2 linked regions of the Homo sapiens genome follow. The protein of the gene in region 1 interacts with the protein of each later gene in a pairwise test. Each region holds a gene or a part of one and is shown on either strand. Other genes may lie near its edges.

Region 1 (3,819 bases):
GCCCAAGCTGGAGTGCAGGAGCTTATCATAGATCACTGCAACCTTGAACTCCTGGGCTCAAGGGATCTTCCTGCTTCAGCCTCCTGAGTGTAGGTGGGACTACAGGTGCATGCACAGTACCCGGCTAATTTTTTAATTTTCTGTATCACTATCTATAAAATTTACTAAGCGTTAATCATATGCTTCAACACTTTATGTACATCATCTCATTATTGTTATCCATTTTACAGGTACAGAAACTGAAGGGTTAAATGACTTCTCCCAAATTATACAACTAAAAAGTGCCTGTTTTGCATAGTGTCTTTAAATCTAATACCAGGGCATATTCCAATCTTTAGGAAAACCTAGAAATATGCTCAAGATAGGGGTGTAGCCTTGATTTTCTTACTAACATTTTTTTCCCTATTGGTTCTTATGTATTTCCCAGTGTGTATAATTCAATTATTCTGAACTTGAGAGTAAAAAGTTGGTCACTACAAACTTGATGAAGATTTGTCTGCAACATTATTTAAAATAGGAATAAGGCCACACACGGTGGCTTATGCCTGTAATCTCAGCACTTTGGGAGGCCAAGGTGGGCAGACCTTGGCCCACCTTAGGTCAGAACTCCAGACCACCTTAGGTCAGGAGTTCGAGACCAGCCTGGCCAACATGGTGAAACCCTGTCTCTACTAAAAATACAAAACTTAGCTGGGCATGGTGGTGCATGCCTGTAATCCCAGCTACTCAGGAAGCTGAGGCAGGAGAATGGCTTGAACCCAGGGGGTTCAGTGAGCCGGGATCGCACCATTGCACTCCAGTCTGGGTGACAGAGTGAGACTCTGTCTCAATAAATAAATAAATAAATAAAATTAAAAATAAACTAAAATAGGAATAAACAGTAATAGCAAACATAGGATTTGTACAGCGAAAACAAACAGCAGGTGGCCAGTCGCGGTGGCTCACACCTGTAATCTCAGCACTTTGGGAGGCCGAGGCAAGCGGATCACTTGAGGCCAAGAGTTCAAGACCAGTCTGGCCAACATGGTGAAACCCCATCTCTACTAAAAGTACAAAAATCAGTGGGGCAGCCGGGCGCGGTAATTCCAGCACTCTGGGAGGCTGAGGCGGGCAGATCACGAGGTCAGGAGATTGACACCATCCTGGCTAACATGGTGAAACCCTGTGTCTACCAAAAAATACAAAAAAGTAGCCAGGCGTGGTGGCAGGCGCCTGTAGTCCCAGCTACTCGGGAGGCTGAGGCAGGAGAATGGCATGAACCCGGGAGGCGGAGCTTGCAGTGAGCCAAGATCACGCCACTGCACTCCAGCCTGGGAGACAGAGCGAGACTCTGTCTCAAAAAAAAAAAAAACCGAAAAAAAATTAGTGGGGCATGGTGGTGGGCACCTGTAATCCTAGCTACTCAGGAGGCTGAGGCAGGAGAATAACTTGAAGCCGGGAGGCAGAGGTTGCAGTGAGCCGAGATACTCCAGCCTGGGTGAACAAGAGACTATCTCAAAAAACAAATGAACAAACAAAACCAGCAGGCAAGGGATTCTGCTGTTTTAAAGCACTTCATAGATTTAAAATGAGGACAGTTTATATCAGAGATTTTGGGCTTTGTCCCTGAAAGATGGATAAAGTGTGTTTGGTTATAACGTGAATTTATTTCTTCATTCTTACCTTACTCCAAGATTTTCAAAACGAGACTCATCAAGACAAGGCAGTAATGCGCCTGTGATTTCATTTTCTATGGAAGAAAAAAGACAAATTCAATGTATACAACATATGCTTTTCATTTTCTTTCAATTTGGATACACCAACATTTACCCAGATCCACATAAGTGAGTACCCACTGCAGGCAATGGATTGTGCCAAGTACCACTTTTTTGATCTGCTACTTGTAAAGACTTAATTTTAATTAAATAACTAAACCAAGAAGCATTTTTTGATAAATCACGTGAAAATTTCAAAATTATTTGTGTAAATTAGTTCCAAGAAAAACCAGTTGCAAAAAGGAAAGTGAAACCCGACTACCTGTTGGGGTTTTGCCAGGTCAGCAGCTTTGAGTTGGGGAGGGAAGGAAACCTAAGTCTATTGTTCTTAGAATTAACAAGGTTTGAGTTGGGGAGGGAAGGAAACCTAAGTCTATTGTTCTTAGAATTAACAAGTTAAAACCGTGAATTCAAGAGTGCTTAAAGTGTTGATTTTTCTCAAACCTCCTGGGAAAGCACTCAATACTCTGATTTGGAAGAGGTGTGTGTGTGTGTGTGTGTGTGTGTGTGTGTGTGTGTGTCCTGGGAAAGCACTCAATACTCTGATTTGGAAGAGGTGTGTGTGATTTGGAAGAGGTGTGTGTGTGTGTGTGTGTGTGTGTGTGTGTGTGTCCTGGGAAAGCACTCAATACTCTGATTTGGAAGAGGTGTGTGTGTGTGTGAGTGTGTGTGTGTGTGTGTGTGTCCTGGGAAAGCACTCAATACTCTGATTTGGAAGAGGGGTGTGTGTGTGTGTGTGTGTGTGTGTGTGTGTGTGTGTGTTGTTGGGTTTTTTCCTTTCTCTTTCTATACAATTAATTCTAATCTTTCCTGACCTCAAATTCCAGAACTCTGGACTATTTTCTTTTATTTTCTTTGAGACAGGGTTTTGCTTGTTGCCCAGGTTGGAGTGCAGTGGTGCGATCACATCTCACTGCAGCCTTGACCTCCTGGGCTCAAGCGATCCTCCTGCCTCAGCCTCCTGAGTAGCTGGGACCACAGGCATGTGCCACTGCACCTAGCTAATTTTTATTTTTATTTTTTGTAAAGTTGAGGTCTCCTGATGTTGCCCAGGCTGGTCTTGAATTCTTGGGCTCAAGTGATCTTCCCACACTGGCCTCCCAAAGTGCTGGGATTATAGGTATGAGCCACTGGGCCAGGCCTCCAGTGGTTTTTGATGAGAATACTTGTTAAGGTATAGATCACATGAGTTCTAGAGTCCAAAGACCTAACCTTAAAAAATCTAGCTCTTTTTTGTAGTGGTGTGATCTCTGAAAAGTTACTTTACATCTTTGGACCTCGCATACATCATCGGTAAAATGTGTTGAGTGTAGTAACTTATTTCAGACTTCTTGTGAGGCTGTATTCCATAATGAGAAAAGGGACACTGTACCTTGTGCTTGGCTTATCAAATTAAAAAAAAAATGGACTTAGATAAAGAGAGACTTTTTTTTTCTTTTCCGAGATGGAGTCTCACTCGGTCGCCCAGGCTGGAGTGCAGTGGCGGGATCTTGGCTCACTGCAACCTCCGCCTCCCAGGTTCAAGTGATTCTCCTGCCTCAGCTTCCCAAGTAGCTGGGACTACAGGCACATACCACCATGCCCGGCTAATTTTTGTATTTTTAGTAGAGACGGTGTTTCACCATGTTGGCCAGGCTGGGCTTGAATTCCTGACCTCAGGTGATCTACCTGCTTCGGCCTTCCAAAGTGCTGGGATTACAGGCGTGAGCCACCGTGCCCGGCCAAGAGAAACTTTATTAGAAAGAAAGACTATTGCTGGTCGGGCGTGGTGGCTCACACCTGTAATCCCAGCACTTTGGGAGGCCAAGGCGTGTGAATCATCAGGTCAAGAGATTAAGACCATCCTGGCCAACATGGTGAAACCCCATCTCTACTAAAAATACAAAAATTAGCCAGGTGTGGTGGTGGGCACCTGTAGTCACAGCTACTCAGGAGGCTGAGGCAGGAGAATTGCTTGAACCCGGGAGGCAGAGGTTACAGTGAGCCGAGATCACACCACTGCATTTCAGCCTGGCGACAGAGCGAGACTCTGTCTCAAAAAAAAAAAAAAAAGAAAAGAAAAAAA
Region 2 (3,819 bases), on another chromosome or scaffold:
TCAGAGCCATATTCCTTGGTGGAGGGATGCCAGAAACAGGGAAGATACTGGAGGGCAGTGGTCCGAGGCCAGCGCACCAACCTGTCCCCCACGTCTCATCTCTTCCAGGCCTCGCTGGTCCTGCAGGTGTCCTACACACCGCTGCCTGGAGCTGTGCCCCTGTTCCCGCCCCCTACTCCTCTGGAGCCCTCCCCGACTCTGCCTGACCTGGATGTAGTGGCAGGTGGGTAGCCCACGTTGGCCTGGCTGGGCCCCAGCAAGAAGGCCGGCAGTGGCACTTGAGCCTGGGGGCTGGGAGCTGCAGCGAGGCTTCCCAGCCTTTGCTGCCCTCCCCAGGTTGGAGGCTGCCCAGGCCTGGAAAGAAGAGGGTGCAGTGGGTGGGAAGTCCTGAGGGCTGCCTTCTGCTGTGCAGAAAGAAGGGGCAGCAGGCACGTTCCCTTGGGCGGTGCAGGGAGTAATGTGAGGGTGCCTCCAAGCCCCAGCTGCCTGGGGACGGGGCTGAGCCCAGGCTGGGTGTTCTGAGCTGTGCAGTTCCAAGAAGGGTGTGTGGGGATGGGGTCTGACCCAGGTGATACCTGAGGCCCCACAAACTCCCCAGAACCGAATGTTTCCCTACCTCAGCACCCAGCAGGCCTTTGGTGATGGTGTGTGACAAAAGAACTAGTTTTTTTTCTTGAAAGAGCCCTGAACTGAACTTCAGGGTTCCAGTCCTGCCTTTGACACTGAGTCTCTGTGTGACTTTGGGCTGATTACTTTCCCTCTCTGGGCCCATAGATTATTTGTGAAGGGAGCAGACTAAGTTAGCTAAGTGCTGTGCCTGTCTCAGCTCTCTTCACTTGGTTCTGCCAGGCTGGTCAAGCGAGGACCCAGCCCGGGGTGGCTGGCTCTCCACTGGTGGGCCTGGGTGTGGGAGCCTCCATGTGGTCCAGCCTGCTGGGGTTGGGAGGAAGCTACATAGACGGGCTAGTGGGCACTTGCCCATGGGAAAGATTCTAGAGTTTTTCTCTTAGTGAAGGGAGCTAGAAGCAAGCACAGCATTAAAACCGGAGCAGCCCATGTCTCAATTGAGTGTGCCCTGTGCCTGACCTGGGGCCAGCCCAGCACAGGGCTCTGTGGTGAGGTCGGCAGAGCAGAGCTGTCTTGTTGGGGCTCAGCACTGTCCGAGCTTAGAGATGGGAGATCAGTCTGGACTGGAGTAACCTGGTAATCCTGAGCTGTGTGGCTGGAGTGGGCTCAGGGGAGGAAGGAGAGGTGCCCGTGGTGGCAGAGGGTGGGGAGCAGGGAGGGTCCGAATACTCTGGGACTGTGTTGAGGTGGATCTGACAGAGTTAGGTGCAGGCCAATCAGTGGAGGCTTCCAGACACGCCTGGGAGGTGGTGAGAAGGAACAGGTGCCACTGGGCTCCACAGCTATTTCTGAGCTTTGCACCAGGCTGGGGTGGGCGGGGAAGGCAGGGTTGGGGATGGAGGTGCAGTAGGTTGGTTTCCTTCACCCCAACCTCCTCCCTCCCCTCCCGGGGTTATGCCCTGCCCACAAGACAGGCGGGGGACAGAGCCGGGCCGAGACTTGGTCCCTGCTCAGTGACAGCACCATGGACACGAGATACTCTGGAAAGAAGTGGCCGGCCCCCACGGGTGAGACACGGGCCAGGACTGTCCTGATCCCAGACCCTCCCTGTAACTGTCTCACTAGCTGCCATGGTCAGCTTGCTGGAGCGGGGCCAGGTGGCAGAGGACTCCTCCTGCAGGACTTGGCGGGTGGGAGGGCTAGGGCCATTCTGTTTTCTTCCTGTTGACTAACTGGACTGACTGCCCTCAAGTTTCAGCTGCTGGAAGCTCCTCTTCTTTCTACCTTATCCATCCTGGCTCACTGATGGGGAGGGAGGAGGGAGAGGAAGAGGGGATGAGTCTTAGGGCCCATGCCTTTTGGATCTTCTGCCCCCTGGGCTGGGTCCCAGGGGCAGGGGCAGGGGCAGGGCCAGAGGGATCCAGGCCTCATTAGGGCCCTCTCCTCTTAGACACAGGAGGAGAGGAAGACACAGAGGACCAGGGACTCACTGGAGATGAGGCGGAGCCATTCCTGGATCAAAGCGGAGGCCCGGGGGCTCCCACCACCCCAAGGAAACTACCTTCACGTCCTCCGCCCCACTACCCCGGGATCAAAAGAAAGCGAAGTGCGCCTACATCTAGAAAGCTGCTGTCAGACAAACCGCAGGATTTCCAGGTGATGAACGGGCTTTCTCTGACCCCAGGCTCCTCTTCAGCCATCAGCTGCGGGTGCCAGGCACCTGCCTGGTTTGTCCAGCTTCAGGGGAAGATGTGTGTGGGATCCTCAGGGCCCTCCTGTGGGGGAATCTGTAGTTTCCCTGGGCCTGGGCAGATGCCAAACAGGGAGTTCACATCTTACATCCACAGAATAAGCTTCTGCCGAGACCTGTGGTTTTGCGCTTAAAAAAAAAAAAAAAAAAAAAGTCACTGCAGAGATTCAGCATGTCTTTGCATCTCTGATCAGAGAAAAACCTGATTTTTCTAACCAGGGTATATCCAACCAGCAAGCTCCTGGCTATTCAGGTGTGGTCTGTGTCCAGCACCTTCCGCATCACCTGTATACTTGTTAGACATGCAGAGTCTACTCAGACCTGCTCTACCAGAATCTGCATTTTAACAAGATCCTTACCTCAAAGAAGCTCTGTCTAACATCTTTTTTTTCTCCTTATATCTATCCCCCTGCATATAGCCATGGATTTTTCTGAGAGTCATGTGGAATTTGAATTTGTTCAAGCTCATCACAGAATAAAAGCTATTAATATGAACACTTTGACACATTTTTATCCAAAAATCCATCCCATTTTATTTGCTTTTAACTTTGGTCCTTTGCCTATTTTTTTTTTCTTTTCAAAAGAATTTTCTATTTTGATGTAGTCACACAGTGATATTTAACTCTTTACAACTACTTTTAAGGTTAAAAGCAAGAATCTTAAATCTCTATTTATAATACTAAGTGCAACAAATTGCAAAAATATATTTCTATTCTAAATCATGGTAATTTAAGCAGAAGTCCTAGCTCTAACCACTGTTTGCCCCAAAAGACAAAATTCTAGCCCCCATACTACTATTCCCCAAACATGTTCATATTGCCTTTGTTCTCTTTATGGAAATACCATATGTTTATTTTAGACACTTTGGAAAATATATTAAAATGAGGAGATTAAAAATCACTCATCCATCTTCCCATTGCTATTAAGAATATATCCTCCCATATTATGCAATTTACAAAAAAAAAAACAGTTGGTCAGTAAATAACAGTTGATTCTAAAGTGGAGCCAGTAAATATCTTATTTTTTTCCATAGAATTGCCTTAATATTGTAAAATTTCATATTTTAAAATATCTTACCTAATATTTGGAAGCATAGACGTTCTTGAAGTCTTCATTTACTTACAGCTCAATGGCAAAAATTCTTAATTTATTTCTCAGAATGTAAGAAAGCATTGCATCTTATAAAGAATAAAGACTATTTCTGGGGTCACTTCACTGTGTAAGTTCGACCTCTGAGGGAATTGTCAATAAAGAATATTCAAGCCACTTAAAAATGCCAGTATCAATGGGGTCTCGGGTGGGGCTTGTGCCAATGGCTGAATGACATAAATGGGGGCTGTATCTGCCCACCCCTGGGGTTTAATGTGGGTAGCCGACGAGGGGCAGCCTGGCAGCTCTTCTATGGAGCTGTGGAATTTTATAGATGTAAGGGGCCTTGGTGGGAAAATATGATAGTTCGTATAATGCTCTTCCTAATTCCTTTTTAATACTTTCCCCAAGAA

The links.
Region 2: the proteins of SAMHD1 (region 1) and DYSF interact in a two-hybrid assay, tested with the Homo sapiens proteins (one large-scale study listed by BioGRID and IntAct).

Annotation. Positions count from the first base shown.
Region 1 is NC_000020.11:36,945,076-36,948,894, forward strand, and holds part of SAMHD1 (deoxynucleoside triphosphate triphosphohydrolase SAMHD1), read right to left. Parts: intron 1,730-3,819; coding exon 1,663-1,729; intron 1-1,662.
Region 2 is NC_000002.12:71,511,699-71,515,517, forward strand, and holds part of DYSF (dysferlin), read left to right. Parts: intron 1-108; coding exon 109-223; intron 224-1,541; coding exon 1,542-1,634; intron 1,635-2,017; coding exon 2,018-2,223; intron 2,224-3,819. UniProt on the Homo sapiens protein: Key calcium ion sensor involved in the Ca(2+)-triggered synaptic vesicle-plasma membrane fusion.